Regions from separate parts of the Homo sapiens genome. Here region 2 is reported to be linked to region 1. The links are microRNA targets in miRTarBase. Many come from high-throughput screens and were not tested one by one. Region 1 holds a microRNA gene; the other region holds the end of a gene's coding sequence.

What was found. Region 1 holds the annotated microRNA hsa-miR-1225-3p (UGAGCCCCUGUGCCGCCCCCAG, at 5,903-5,924, shown strand). A microRNA usually pairs through its seed, bases 2 to 8, with sites in the 3' UTR of a target mRNA and lowers its output. Matches are read on the target gene's strand: a 7mer-m8 pairs with bases 2 to 8, a 7mer-A1 pairs with bases 2 to 7 and ends in A, and an 8mer does both.
Region 2: miRTarBase lists PPIP5K2 as a target of hsa-miR-1225-3p. Seed matches in the 3' UTR shown: 7mer-A1 at 3,696-3,702.

Annotation. Positions count from the first base shown.
Region 1 is chr16:2,087,919-2,096,118 of GRCh38, reverse strand. MIR1225 (microRNA 1225) reads left to right here and starts at 5,835; the gene lies at 5,835-5,924. TSC2 (TSC complex subunit 2) reads right to left here. Exons shown (of 42, transcript NM_000548.5): 39 at 8,178-8,200; 40 at 7,980-8,071; 41 at 7,794-7,892; 42 at 6,628-7,673. The coding sequence ends at 7,509. It overlaps PKD1 (polycystin 1, transient receptor potential channel interacting), which reads left to right. Exons shown (of 46, transcript NM_001009944.3): 35 at 1,909-2,027; 36 at 2,106-2,308; 37 at 2,381-2,575; 38 at 3,026-3,165; 39 at 3,527-3,639; 40 at 3,931-4,072; 41 at 4,213-4,338; 42 at 4,522-4,696; 43 at 4,945-5,235; 44 at 5,311-5,445; 45 at 5,529-5,834; 46 at 5,925-7,411. The coding sequence ends at 6,392. It overlaps PKD1-AS1 (PKD1 antisense RNA 1), which reads right to left and starts at 4,683. Exons shown (of 3, transcript NR_135175.1): 1 at 4,505-4,683; 2 at 3,107-3,230; 3 at 1,102-1,398.
Region 2 is chr5:103,200,705-103,208,239 of GRCh38, reverse strand. PPIP5K2 (diphosphoinositol pentakisphosphate kinase 2) reads right to left here. Exons shown (of 31, transcript NM_001276277.3): 31 at 1-6,718. The coding sequence ends at 6,606. Among named protein-coding and RNA genes, the nearest start is that of MACIR, 54 kb to the left of the region's middle.

The DNA of each region.
Region 1 (8,200 bases):
GTGACTGCTGCTTTTGCATCCACATCTAGTTTGATTTGTGTGTTATTCCTTTGAGTGCTTCTCATTGTTAAGCAACCAAGAACTAAAGAGGTATGAACTGCCCCTGGACTCAAACAAAAAGGAAAACTTCCTGATTTACAAAAGGCAGATAACCATCACATGAGGGCATCTTTATGAATAAATTGCTGGTTGGTTTTAAAAATACAGAGTATGGGGAAATCCAGGGGTAGTCACTACATGCTGACCAGCCCCAGGTATCTCCGGCCCAAAGCTCTGTGAAATCCAGATTCAGTGCTTCCGCGGGGATTTCTGACGGCAGCTCAGACTCCGCATCCACACAGAGCGCGTGGCCCTCACCCTCCCGGCTTCCTCAACCCTTGGCCGTCCCTTGCTCGGACAGTGCTTCGGGCTGACCAGGTCGGAGGCTTGGGTTTGTCCTGGACCCCTCTGCGTCCTTCCTCACTGCAGCCTCCAGCGCGTCCCGTGGCTCCTTTCCCAACGCAGAGCACGGCCTTCCCTGCGCCTGAGCCTGCACCCTCCGTCCTGGCGGCGCCTCTGCCCTGGCATTCCCTGCCACTCCATGCCTCCCTATTGGCCATTCTCCGTCTCTGCCAGCGAGAGCCTGCTCCCTGAGTCAGACCCTGAGTCATTTGTGTTGCTATAAAGGAATAGTTGAGGCTGGGTTATTTTTTATTTTTATTTATTTTTTTGAGATGGAGTCTCTGTTGCCCAGACTGGAGTGCAGTCGCATGATCTCGGCTCACTGCAAAGTCTGCCTCCCACGTTCAAGCAGTTATCTGCCTCAGCCTCCCAAGTAGCTAAGATTACAGGCGCCCGCCGCCACAGCCGGCTAATTTTTTGTGTGTGTGTTTTAGTAGAGAGGAGGTTTCACCATCTTAGCCAGGCTGGTCTTGAACTCCTGACCTCGTGATCCACCCATCTCAGCCTCCCAAAATGCTGAGATTACAGGCGTGAGCCACCACGCCTGACCAAGTTGAGGCTAGGTCATTTTTTAATTTTTTGTAAAGACAGGGTCTCACTGTCTCCAACTCCTGAGCTCAAGTGATCCTCCTGCCTCAGCCTCCTGAAGTGCTGGGATTACAGGCTTGAGACACTGCGCCCAGCCAAGAGTGTCTTTTATCCTCCGAGAGACAGCAAAACAGGAAGCATTCAGTGCAGTGTGACCCTGGGTCAGGCCGTTCTTTCGGTGATGGGCTGACGAGGGCGCAGGTACGGGAGAGCGTCCTGAGAGCCCGGGACTCGGCGTCTCGCAGTTGGTCTCGTCCTCCCCCTCAACGTGTCTTCGCTGCCTCTGTACCTCTTCTCTAGCAGCTCTGGGACCGGGCATATCAGCATGGTGGCCCGATGCAGTGGCACAGCCTCGGTGGTCACTGGCTCCTGGAGACACAAGCAGATCTCTGGCCTCAGGGAGCCCTACACACTGTTGGGATTTGAAAGGCATTCATATGTTTCCTTGTCCAGAAGTTAATTTTAGGCCATAAACCTGCATGGGACAGACACACTGGCGTCTCTAGATTGTAGAGATGCTTGTTGGATGGTTGAGACCCAATCATAGTTTGCAGGGTTGAAGGGGGGCTCATTGCACCCTGAGAGACTGTGCACTGCTGTAAGGGCAGCTGGTCAGGCTGTGGGCGATGGGTTTATCAGCAGCAAGCGGGCGGGAGAGGGACGCAGGCGGACGCCTGACTTCGGTGCCTGGAGTGGCTCTTGGTTCCCTGGCTCCCAGCACCACTCCCACTCTCGTTTGGGGTAGGGTCTTCCGGCTTTTTGTCGGGGGGACCCTGTGACCCAAGAGGCTCAAGAAACTGCCCGCCCAGGTTAACATGGGCTTGGCTGCAACTGCCTCCTGGAGGCCGGGATGAATTCACAGCCTACCATGTCCCTCAGGTCCAGCACTCCTGGGGAGAAGACAGAGACGCTGGCGCTGCAGAGGCTGGGGGAGCTGGGGCCACCCAGCCCAGGCCTGAACTGGGAACAGCCCCAGGCAGCGAGGCTGTCCAGGACAGGTGTGCTTGCGTAGCCCCGGGATGCCCCTAGCCCCTCCCTGTGAGCTGCCTCTCACAGGTCTGTCTCTGCTTCCCCAGGACTGGTGGAGGGTCTGCGGAAGCGCCTGCTGCCGGCCTGGTGTGCCTCCCTGGCCCACGGGCTCAGCCTGCTCCTGGTGGCTGTGGCTGTGGCTGTCTCAGGGTGGGTGGGTGCGAGCTTCCCCCCGGGCGTGAGTGTTGCGTGGCTCCTGTCCAGCAGCGCCAGCTTCCTGGCCTCATTCCTCGGCTGGGAGCCACTGAAGGTGAGGGGGCTGCCAGGGGTAGGCTACAGGCCTCCATCACGGGGGACCCCTCTGAAGCCACCCCCTCCCCAGGTCTTGCTGGAAGCCCTGTACTTCTCACTGGTGGCCAAGCGGCTGCACCCGGATGAAGATGACACCCTGGTAGAGAGCCCGGCTGTGACGCCTGTGAGCGCACGTGTGCCCCGCGTACGGCCACCCCACGGCTTTGCACTCTTCCTGGCCAAGGAAGAAGCCCGCAAGGTCAAGAGGCTACATGGCATGCTGCGGGTGAGCCTGGGTGCGGCCTGTGCCCCTGCCACCTCCGTCTCTTGTCTCCCACCTCCCACCCATGCACGCAGGACACTCCTGTCCCCCTTTCCTCACCTCAGAAGGCCCTTAGGGGTTCAATGCTCTGCAGCCTTTGCCCGGTCTCCCTCCTACCCCACGCCCCCCACTTGCTGCCCCAGTCCCTGCCAGGGCCCAGCTCCAATGCCCACTCCTGCCTGGCCCTGAAGGCCCCTAAGCACCACTGCAGTGGCCTGTGTGTCTGCCCCCAGGTGGGGTTCCGGGCAGGGTGTGTGCTGCCATTACCCTGGCCAGGTAGAGTCTTGGGGCGCCCCCTGCCAGCTCACCTTCCTGCAGCCACACCTGCCGCAGCCATGGCTCCAGCCGTTGCCAAAGCCCTGCTGTCACTGTGGGCTGGGGCCAGGCTGACCACAGGGCCCCCCCGTCCACCAGAGCCTCCTGGTGTACATGCTTTTTCTGCTGGTGACCCTGCTGGCCAGCTATGGGGATGCCTCATGCCATGGGCACGCCTACCGTCTGCAAAGCGCCATCAAGCAGGAGCTGCACAGCCGGGCCTTCCTGGCCATCACGCGGTACGGGCATCCGGTGCACTGGTCTGTCTTCTGGGCTTTAGTTTTGCCTTTAGTCCAGCCAGACCCTAGGGGACATGTGGACATGTGTAGATACCTTTGTGGCTGCTAGAACTGGAGGTAGGTGCTGCTGGCATCAGTAGGCAGAGGGGAGGGACACAGGTCCGTGTCTTGCAGTGCACAGGACGGGCCCATGACAGACAACTGTCTGCCCCAGAACATCCCCAGGATAAGGCTGAGAAGCCCAGGTCTAGCCGTGGCCAGCAGGGCAGTGGGAGCCATGTTCCCTGGGTCTCTGGTGGCCGCTCACTCGAGGCGGGCATGGGGCAGTAGGGGCTGGAGCGTGTGACTGATGCTGTGGCAGGTCTGAGGAGCTCTGGCCATGGATGGCCCACGTGCTGCTGCCCTACGTCCACGGGAACCAGTCCAGCCCAGAGCTGGGGCCCCCACGGCTGCGGCAGGTGCGGCTGCAGGAAGGTGAGCTGGCAGGGCGTGCCCCAAGACTTAAATCGTTCCTCTTGTTGAGAGAGCAGCCTTTAGCGGAGCTCTGGCATCAGCCCTGCTCCCTAGCTGTGTGACCTTTGCCCTCTTAACACCGCCGTTTCCTTCTCTGTATATGAGAGATGGTAACGTTGTCTAATTGATGGCTGCTGGGAGGGTTCCCTGGGGTGGCGCCGAACCAGAGCTCAGGCGAGCTGGCCAGCAGGAAACACTCCTGTTGGGTTTTGATGAGGCCCTGGCCCCGGCCTGGGGCTCTGTGTGTTTCAGCACTCTACCCAGACCCTCCCGGCCCCAGGGTCCACACGTGCTCGGCCGCAGGAGGCTTCAGCACCAGCGATTACGACGTTGGCTGGGAGAGTCCTCACAATGGCTCGGGGACGTGGGCCTATTCAGCGCCGGATCTGCTGGGGTGAGCAGAGCGAGGGCCCCGGGCGTCTACGCCAAGGACAAGGGAGTAGTTCTCCAGGAGTGCCGCGGCCTCCTGACCAGCCTGGCTCCGGGGTGCCGGAAGGGCTGGGGTGCGGCACCCACGCCACCCCTCTCCGGCAGGGCATGGTCCTGGGGCTCCTGTGCCGTGTATGACAGCGGGGGCTACGTGCAGGAGCTGGGCCTGAGCCTGGAGGAGAGCCGCGACCGGCTGCGCTTCCTGCAGCTGCACAACTGGCTGGACAACAGGTGGGAGCTCCCTCCCCTGCCCTCTCCGGGGTGGCCGCAGTCACCAGCCAGGAGCCCACCCTCACTCCTCCGGCCCCCGCTGGCCTAGGCGGCTTCCACAGCCCCTCAGCCACGCCTGCACTGCGCGGTCCCCGCAGCTCCCGCCCTGCCACCCGCTCCTACTGACCCGCACCCTCTGCGCAGGAGCCGCGCTGTGTTCCTGGAGCTCACGCGCTACAGCCCGGCCGTGGGGCTGCACGCCGCCGTCACGCTGCGCCTCGAGTTCCCGGCGGCCGGCCGCGCCCTGGCCGCCCTCAGCGTCCGCCCCTTTGCGCTGCGCCGCCTCAGCGCGGGCCTCTCGCTGCCTCTGCTCACCTCGGTACGCCCGTCCCCGGCCAGACCCCGCGCCTCCCACCGGCAGCGTCCCGCCCCCTCGCGGGGCCCCGCCCCGGCAGCGTCTCACCCCTCGCAGCGCCCCGCCCCCTCGCAGCGTCCCGCCCCCTCGCAGGGCCCCGCCCCGGCAGCGTCCCGCCCCCTCGTAGGGCCCCGCCCCGGCAGCGTCCCGCCCCCTCGCAGGGCCCCGCCCCGGCAGCGTCCCTCCCGCCCTCCTGACCGCGCCCCCCACAGGTGTGCCTGCTGCTGTTCGCCGTGCACTTCGCCGTGGCCGAGGCCCGTACTTGGCACAGGGAAGGGCGCTGGCGCGTGCTGCGGCTCGGAGCCTGGGCGCGGTGGCTGCTGGTGGCGCTGACGGCGGCCACGGCACTGGTACGCCTCGCCCAGCTGGGTGCCGCTGACCGCCAGTGGACCCGTTTCGTGCGCGGCCGCCCGCGCCGCTTCACTAGCTTCGACCAGGTGGCGCAGCTGAGCTCCGCAGCCCGTGGCCTGGCGGCCTCGCTGCTCTTCCTGCTTTTGGTCAAGGTGAGGGCTGGGCCGGTGGGCGCGGGGCTGGGCGCACACCCCAGGGCTGCAAGCAGACAGATTTCTCGTCCGCAGGCTGCCCAGCAGCTACGCTTCGTGCGCCAGTGGTCCGTCTTTGGCAAGACATTATGCCGAGCTCTGCCAGAGCTCCTGGGGGTCACCTTGGGCCTGGTGGTGCTCGGGGTAGCCTACGCCCAGCTGGCCATCCTGGTAGGTGACTGCGCGGCCGGGGAGGGCGTCTTAGCTCAGCTCAGCTCAGCTGTACGCCCTCACTGGTGTCGCCTTCCCCGCAGCTCGTGTCTTCCTGTGTGGACTCCCTCTGGAGCGTGGCCCAGGCCCTGTTGGTGCTGTGCCCTGGGACTGGGCTCTCTACCCTGTGTCCTGCCGAGTCCTGGCACCTGTCACCCCTGCTGTGTGTGGGGCTCTGGGCACTGCGGCTGTGGGGCGCCCTACGGCTGGGGGCTGTTATTCTCCGCTGGCGCTACCACGCCTTGCGTGGAGAGCTGTACCGGCCGGCCTGGGAGCCCCAGGACTACGAGATGGTGGAGTTGTTCCTGCGCAGGCTGCGCCTCTGGATGGGCCTCAGCAAGGTCAAGGAGGTGGGTACGGCCCAGTGGGGGGGAGAGGGACACGCCCTGGGCTCTGCCCAGGGTGCAGCCGGACTGACTGAGCCCCTGTGCCGCCCCCAGTTCCGCCACAAAGTCCGCTTTGAAGGGATGGAGCCGCTGCCCTCTCGCTCCTCCAGGGGCTCCAAGGTATCCCCGGATGTGCCCCCACCCAGCGCTGGCTCCGATGCCTCGCACCCCTCCACCTCCTCCAGCCAGCTGGATGGGCTGAGCGTGAGCCTGGGCCGGCTGGGGACAAGGTGTGAGCCTGAGCCCTCCCGCCTCCAAGCCGTGTTCGAGGCCCTGCTCACCCAGTTTGACCGACTCAACCAGGCCACAGAGGACGTCTACCAGCTGGAGCAGCAGCTGCACAGCCTGCAAGGCCGCAGGAGCAGCCGGGCGCCCGCCGGATCTTCCCGTGGCCCATCCCCGGGCCTGCGGCCAGCACTGCCCAGCCGCCTTGCCCGGGCCAGTCGGGGTGTGGACCTGGCCACTGGCCCCAGCAGGACACCCCTTCGGGCCAAGAACAAGGTCCACCCCAGCAGCACTTAGTCCTCCTTCCTGGCGGGGGTGGGCCGTGGAGTCGGAGTGGACACCGCTCAGTATTACTTTCTGCCGCTGTCAAGGCCGAGGGCCAGGCAGAATGGCTGCACGTAGGTTCCCCAGAGAGCAGGCAGGGGCATCTGTCTGTCTGTGGGCTTCAGCACTTTAAAGAGGCTGTGTGGCCAACCAGGACCCAGGGTCCCCTCCCCAGCTCCCTTGGGAAGGACACAGCAGTATTGGACGGTTTCTAGCCTCTGAGATGCTAATTTATTTCCCCGAGTCCTCAGGTACAGCGGGCTGTGCCCGGCCCCACCCCCTGGGCAGATGTCCCCCACTGCTAAGGCTGCTGGCTTCAGGGAGGGTTAGCCTGCACCGCCGCCACCCTGCCCCTAAGTTATTACCTCTCCAGTTCCTACCGTACTCCCTGCACCGTCTCACTGTGTGTCTCGTGTCAGTAATTTATATGGTGTTAAAATGTGTATATTTTTGTATGTCACTATTTTCACTAGGGCTGAGGGGCCTGCGCCCAGAGCTGGCCTCCCCCAACACCTGCTGCGCTTGGTAGGTGTGGTGGCGTTATGGCAGCCCGGCTGCTGCTTGGATGCGAGCTTGGCCTTGGGCCGGTGCTGGGGGCACAGCTGTCTGCCAGGCACTCTCATCACCCCAGAGGCCTTGTCATCCTCCCTTGCCCCAGGCCAGGTAGCAAGAGAGCAGCGCCCAGGCCTGCTGGCATCAGGTCTGGGCAAGTAGCAGGACTAGGCATGTCAGAGGACCCCAGGGTGGTTAGAGGAAAAGACTCCTCCTGGGGGCTGGCTCCCAGGGTGGAGGAAGGTGACTGTGTGTGTGTGTGTGTGCGCGCGCGCACGCGCGAGTGTGCTGTATGGCCCAGGCAGCCTCAAGGCCCTCGGAGCTGGCTGTGCCTGCTTCTGTGTACCACTTCTGTGGGCATGGCCGCTTCTAGAGCCTCGACACCCCCCCAACCCCCGCACCAAGCAGACAAAGTCAATAAAAGAGCTGTCTGACTGCAATCTGTGCCTCTATGTCTGTGCACTGGGGTCAGGACTTTATTTATTTCACTGACAGGCAATACCGTCCAAGGCCAGTGCAGGAGGGAGGGCCCCGGCCTCACACAAACTCGGTGAAGTCCTCCACCGAGGAGATGAGGCGCTTCCGCTGGCCCACCTCATAGCCAGGTGTGGGCTCGGCTGGAGTCTGTGCAGGGGCTTTGCTATGGGACGGAGGGTGCACCAGAGGTAGGCTGGGGTTGGAGTAGGCGGCTTCCTCGCAGATCTGAAGGCAGAGGCGGCTTGGGCAGTAAGTCTGGGAGGCGTGGCAACCGCTCTGCCCACACACCCGCCCCACAGCTTGGGCAGCCAGCACACCCCGCTGAGGGAGCCCCATATTCCCTACCCGCTGGCGGAGCCGCTTGATGTGGCGGAGCCGGGCAATCCACTTGGAGGGGTAGATATCGGTGGGGTTGGAGCGGCTATGATGCACCTGTGAGGCCATCTGGGGACGTAGGCAGGGGGTGAGCTCACTATCAGGTGGCACCTGGGCCTGTCCCACCAGCTCACGCCTGGACCCACCCCCACTCACATTTGCGTGCAGGGCCATCTGGCGGGCCACGAAGGGCAGGTTGCGGTCAGACACGATCTTGGCCACGCTGGTGTCCACAAGGCCCTCCATGTCTGGGGAGACTTGGTGGTCACGCCAGGCCCAGGGCTCTTGGCGCCACACTGCAGGGCCCCACCCGGCCCTACCTTTCCTGCACTGCAGGGCCCCACCCGGCCCTACCTTTCCTGCACTGCAGGGACACC
Region 2 (7,535 bases), not on the chromosome of region 1:
GGGCGCCTGTAATCCCAGCTACTCTGGAGGCTGAGGGAGGAGAATCATTTGAAACTGGAAGGTGGAGGTTGCAGTGAGCTGAGATCATGCCACTGCACTCCAGCCTAGGCAACAAGAGTAAAACTCCATCTCAAAAAAAAAAAGAAAAAGAAAAAGAAAAGCCAACCTACCTAACATATGAAATTGCATTTTAAAAAACAACAAAAACAAAACAAAAACAAACAAAAAAGAAATTGTATCAAATAGATGAGCCAGAAAGAAATTTATCTCATATAAAGGTAAGTAATACTTGAAAATAAACCTGCACAGTGTTCATGCACAAACACTTCAAGAAAAGGAGAAATGGAACAAGCAGAAACAATTAGCAGATAAAAACCACTCAACAGGAAAGAATGAATCAGCTGAGCACATGAAAAATGTGACCAAATATACTGTCATAACTCAAAGAACTTAAGGAAATAGAGTTCATAAAGAAATGTAGTTGATCAGAAACACCATAGCAAAACAACCAAAGGAAATGCAACATAAGCTAACAAAGTTCAGAAAAGAAATGAAAAGGAAAAAATAATCAACCAAAACTGTGCAGTAGAGGAAAAAATACACTAATTGGATATTGTTCACAGCAAGGAGTCAACAGATAGGATCTATATATATATATATATAGACTTTAAAATTAAATATAATTCAAAATCATAGTGAAGGAAAAAACCATTAGCACAACAAGTGAACTATAGCAAATGTGAATAACATAATGCAAGTGTAGTATACAGCATACATTGCTGATTATGTATCCATTATCCATGCCCTCACTATCCAAAATGATGATTTTGGTCATATATCCTTCTTTTCCACAGAATCATGTGCTTTAGGGCAGTGGTTCTTAACTAGGGTCAATTCTTCCCTCACAAAAGACATTTACTAATGTCTGGAGACATTTTTGACTGCCACAGTTTGGAGGCGATGCTGCTGGCATTTAGGGTGAGGAGATATGTTCCAGGCCAAAGTCTGATGTGTGATCTTTCAGGCCTGACCATAAGCAATTACAAAGGCTTTGCCTGACAGGCTTTGTAGGGGAAAGGTGCCCTTCCCACATGAGATTTAAACACAGCCAGTCTCTGGAGGGAGTTGTATCTGGTGCTCAGGACCCCCTGGGCTGGCCATGTCTATAAACCTAGCTGCATTCCTAGACCAGGTACCTCCATGCTGAGTCTTCCTTATCAGGGGGCCTTGGTTGAGACACTTTTCAGGTGCCTCCACAGAGACCTCGCTATTGGTGGGCCTTGACTGAGACACTCATCTCCACTCTGACTCAGTTGTTTTCTACTTCTAACCCTTCCCTGCTCCCTGTCCGCAGTCCTTGAGGTCCATAAGATGGCAGGAACCTTTTGTTCATTGCTCCTTAGCAGTGAAACAATTTCCTCTGCCTGGACTGCATGTCGTCTGATTGACGCATGTCCAGTGCTAGTCCATGGTAGGGGAAAAATGGAACAACAAGGAGCTGGCCCTACTTTCCTTTTTGGTCTCTTGCTTATAATTTTATCATAGTAAGTGAATAAAGATGTGATTGTTATTTTCATTTCAGCTACTTACCTTAACTGACTCTCAACACTTCACAGCTAGGTACAGAGATCCTACTAGACATGCTGCTATGCATGGAACAGCTTCCTATGATGTAGAATTTTATGGTCCAAAATGTCAACAGTGCTGAGGCTTTTCGGAAAAACTGACTCCATCATCTGCTCTAGGGTCAGTAAGGTCATGGGAATCTCCTGGAGTATTCTATTTATCTAGGGGTGAGTAGATGATCAAAGAAGTTGGCTCAATCACACTGAAGTAGATGGCTTAATATTAATATTCCAGGATTGGGACAGAACTTCCCTCAATTTTTATTGTGTTGGACATGAACAAAAAAAATATGTAGTCCTCACTGAAACCGACAGCAATTATTGTTAACACGAGAGAAAACAACTTTGGGATAAAGTTTATACTATGCCAGAGGTGACAAGGGAGGTCACTTGGGCTTTTGATGACAATATGGCTAATGCAACTGTGGCTGAAGCCAACCCCACCTTTGGACCTTCAGAAATGTGTAATAATACATTTTCTGATGATTTAAACCAGTTTCAATTGGAATTTTCCTACTTGCAGTGGAAAGTATTGTTACAGAAAGACAAAAGAATTTTAAAGCAATAAAAAAAGCAAGCACAATCTAAAAGCAAAGATACATTACATAAAACAGACTACACTAATCTATTAAGTAAAAGGGATCTTAAAATTGAATCACAAAGCAAAACCCAATATATACTATATTAAATAACCTAAAACAAAGTGACACAAATACCAAAAAGTAAAAAGATGAATATCAGGCAAATGCAAGCCAAAATAAAGCATAGGTCATAATCTTAATATCTGACAATTTATAGAACAAAAAGTATCCAATGGACAAAAAGGACATTTTAATAATGATAAGGTAAAACCTATAATGAAAATCTAGCATTCATGAATTTATATGCACCAGAAAACATACCCACATACTATATAAAAAGTAAAGTAAAAACCATTGATAATAAAAGGAGAAATTGACAGTGATCCCTAAGCGAAAAGATGTTTTTCTCACAATCCATGACAAAGCACATGAACCAAAAGAAAAGCAGTTTATAAAAATCTCAATGAGATATCATCTTACAAATGAGATACCATCTCACGCCAGTTAGAATGGCGATCATTGAAAAGTCAGGAAACAACAGATGCTGGAGAGGATGTGGAGAAATAGGAACACTTGGTGGGAGTGTAAATTAGTTCAACCATTGTGGAAGACAGTGTGGCGATTCCTCAAGGATCTAGAACTAGAAATACCATTTGACCCAGCCATCCCATTACTGGGTATATACCCAAAGGATTATAAATCATGCCACTATAAAGACACATGCACACGTATGTTTATTGTGGCACTATTCACAATAGCAAAGACTTGGGACCAACCCAGATGTCCATCAATGATAGACTGGATTAAGAAAATGTGGCACATATACACCATGGAATACTATGCAGCCAAAAAAAAGGATGACAAGGACATGGATGAAGCTGGAAACCATCATTCTCAGCAAACTATCACAAGGACAGAAAACCAAACACCGCATGTTCTCACTCATAAGAGGGAACTGAACAATGAGAACAGTACTTGGACACAGGGCGGGGAACATCACACACTGGGCCTGTCAGTGGGTGGGGGGCTGGGGGAGGGATAGCATTAGGAGAAATACCTAATGTAAATGATGAGTTCATGGGTGCAGCAAACCAACATGGCACATGTATACCTATGTAACAAACCTGCACATTGTGCACATGTACCCTAGAACTTACAGTATTAAAAAAAAAACTCAGTAATATATTTAGTTAAGGAGCTATAATTCACATAGATTATATAGTACACAATACTAAATAGATTTTTTAATGTGCTCTGTTCTCTGAAAATAGAAATTAGATCTTCCACAAAAATTGACCTATATAAACAACACTTTACACAGTAATATTTTGGTACCTACGATTATGTACAGAGGGAAACCTGTTTCTATGTGGACTCCAATCACAAATGACTCCTTCTGAAGGAGTGTAAAAATTATTCCCATGAGCTGGGTGTGGTGGCACGCACCTATAGTACCAGCTATTTAGGAGGCTGAAGCAGAAAGATTTCTTGAGCCCAGGAGTTCAAGGCTGTAGTGAATTAAGACTGTGCCACTGCACTCCAGCTGGGGTGACAGAATGAGACCTTGTCTAAAAAAGAAAAATGTTCCCACTGGCAAGAATTCTGTTGTTTTGATATCTCCCAACACAGGAAAAGAGAATTAGAGAGGGGCTAAAACTGCTGGGCCACTCTAAGAGAAGAGATCCCAACCCCAACTAAGAATATAGGCAGTCTACACTGTCCAGATAGTAAGGCAAGGATAAAATGATGTAAAGTTAATAAACACTGTACACTATGTGTAAAGCAAATTCTTATAAATACACAAAGACTGAGAAATTTCTACCAAAGTATGAATACAAAACAAAAATGTGAAATCTTGGTTCAAACTGGCATGGCACTAGTTAACAGTGGACATTTAGGTCAGACAGAGTCAACCCAAAAAGAAATCCGGGTGAAAACAGAAACTTTTTCCTTGGCTAGTGAGTTTTAATTGGATATTTCTTGAAGAACTTTAACTTTTCTCTCATAATTTCCATCTATTGCCTTTGTGCTCTATGTTTATGCTAAGCACACTGCCACATGTTTTTGTTACTTTACTGTATTCCCTTCAGCCTCTATATCTTGTCTATCACTGACATAAGGTGTTCAGCACACTTTTCTTCACCCAAAATTGCTGTACCACGCCCCCCAAATTTGCTAGTATTTGAGAATGGACTACGTAACTCATTTAAACCAGGGCAGCAGAATCTGCCAGCACTAGACTTCAAGGGCTAAGTTAGGTCTGAGCCTATTATATGGCTTTTAAGGGTGAAGGAACTGAATAATACATTATGAAGATTAATATCTCAGGGTGACTAGACAATTCTTCATGCTGGGCTAGTTCACCTCTTTGGGATGGAGGACTGGGCTCTAAGAAGAAATATCTTCTAGTATTTAAAACCAAAAAATCCCACATCTTCTCAGGACAGAATCAAGTGAGAAACAGATGCTTCAGTCAAACTGCCACTAAACAGTGATAACTATAACATTTTGCTCTGATACAGTAGACTTTTTATTTGTTTTGGAAAGTGATTCTAAGATTTTTACAAATAGAGTGTCTAGTCTACAGAGCAATACTACTGAGTTTGGTGACTACAGGAAAGTAATAGTTCTTGCATAACAATGGAAAAAGTTAGTTGTACTGTACTTTCTAGTTTGGAAAGTAATATATTGCTATGTATATAGCCAATAATAAATTTTATTTAATATGTAAGTACTAGTTAATAAAAAAATTCCTGATTTTTTCTACTTTGAAAACTAAAAAGTAAGAGATAAGAAAATTTTAAAAATTTACCATTTAAGTCTCTTTGATTCTGGAAATATTTTAATTAGGTTCCACTTTAAAAAAAAAGTAGCTTCCTTATGACCTCCACAGTGAGTACATTAACTACATTTTCACAAACAGAAAACTTACATACATTCAACTGTTTACAAGACATGTCTCCATATAACACATTTACATTCATGTGAAATCTATGAACTTCTTTAATTGCATATATTTATGACTCTTACATCTGGTACCTTTTAAAACAGCTAACATATAGTATGCTTATTTCCTATAAGTTAATTAATATATGACTATTTAAGGTGAGAAGAGTCTCATTTGAAGAATTACAATAGTTATATTCATACCATGGGAAATCAATAGTTTTTCTAAACATAAATTTCAAGCTAAAGCTTTAGCAATTTAAGTTATTTAACTACCAATGCATGAAATTCTTATCAGATTGTCCCATTTGGATTACAGTTTAAGTCATTTCAAGCTGTTCACAATTATTTGTGCATTGGTGGGGGGGAAAGCACCAAGGATAATAAATTGATTTTTCACATCACAGATGAAATCACAGCGCAATGATTTCAATATCCCTTCAAAAATCTAATCATTTATAAAGAGCATTTATTTCAAATGCTCAATCTTTAAGCTTTCTTAGTGTGATCAACTGATACACTAGGGATAAGAATGGAAATGGTTAAAAACAGATGCTATACATAATACTTACTAACTTAACAGAATTCAGATTTCTCCTAACATTGTTGATTTCCATTTTTGAACTGACTTCTTTAGATCTAAAAAGAACTCTGAAAGTAAGTGTAACATTTATACACTTGTCAACTATACTTAAAAAGAAACTCTGAAGGTGCCTTTCTTGTCAAAATACAAAACAAAAGTTTTCCTGATGAACAAGGCACCTTGTATGGTAAGGAAATATATAAAGAAAATATTTTCTACAAATTAATATATAAATCTATGTGCACAAAGGTGTAGTTCTCCCAGCTGCATATGTAATATTTTAAATAACACACAATAAAAAAATTCAAAACACAGATTGAAAAAATAACCCATGTGGCTAATACTCCAGTTGTTAAATATTGCAGCATATATGTCACTGTAACAATTGGGAAAGATATTCTAATCTAAACGGTTAATGAAATCTCTTTGGAAAGACACTTTAAAAGTCCCCAATATGTAACCCTGGCTGTCAAATTTCAATCTAGAAGTTTTAACAGCTAAGATGCAATCCCATGAAAATAAAAGTGTGCACAAAGGCCAGCTCATCAGACTCTGCAGTACATAGCATTACTGCTGTGACTTTGGTACGAGCCTGCTGGGCTTTTATGTTCCTTTTCATTACTATGTGCACATGGTAAACATCATATTAACAACAATCGATTTTTATCACTATAAGTTTTGCTGCTCACAGAATGCTAACAAACATTGTTTTAAACATTTCCAGATCATGACAACAGTTCCTTACCTGAACATAAACAAAGAAAACCTTAGATTTAAAAACATTTTTAAGTGAACACATAAATGCATAAGGAGAAACATAAGAACATACTATTTTTATAAGTATAAAAAGTTCCAGCTTCTGCTAAGATTTCATTTCTTTTTCCCAGTGTTTTTTTTGTGTTCATGCGTTTCTGTTTTGCTAGTTATATTCTTTTTCCGAGATGAGGTATTAGGAACAACTGCACTAGAAGGTCCACTTGTAGCTACATAAAACAAAAACAAAAAAAAAAAACTATTGCTTAAATTTACACAAACAATCCAAGTTCAAATAATACTGCTGATTGACAAAACAATTCTTGTTATAATTGTGATGTAAATGAAATGTAAAAATTTAATATAGCATTTTTAACCTTTTACTTTTCAGAATTCAACACAAATATAGAAAGGTAATGACAATGGGCTGTGTTCACAAAATTAATTTCTCATTTTACTCTACATGCTTCCTAGGAAATGAATATATTTTCATAATTTTTAACTACCATCCATTGTGCTAATGATTTTTAAATTTATACTTCTGGCCTGGGCCTTTTCCTTTAGCTCAAGATATGTATATACAACTGCCAATTGAAACTTTCTTTAAAGATATCTGACGAGAAAGACAAACTTAATATGCATAAACTGAACTCATCATTTTCTCTACAAGCATCTATTTCCTCTTGTATCTTCTATCTTATCCCTCTCTAAAAAGCTAGAAGGTAAGAAAACTAGAAGCACGCTTGACTTAGGAATCATCCTTCTGTGTCTAAACCAACATGAAGTCTTCATGAATTATCAAAAAACTATTCTAGGCCAGGCAGGGTGATTCATGCCTGTAATCCCAACACTTTGGAGGGCCAACGTGGGAGGATCGCTTGAGCCCAGAAGTTCAAGACGAGCCCTGGCAACATAGTGAGACCCCCTTCTCTACAAAAAACTTTAAAAATTAGCTGGGTGTGGTGGCACACACTTATAGTCTCAGCTACTCAGGAGGCCAACGTAGGAAGATTGCTTGAGCCTGATAGGTTGAGGCTGCAGTGAGCC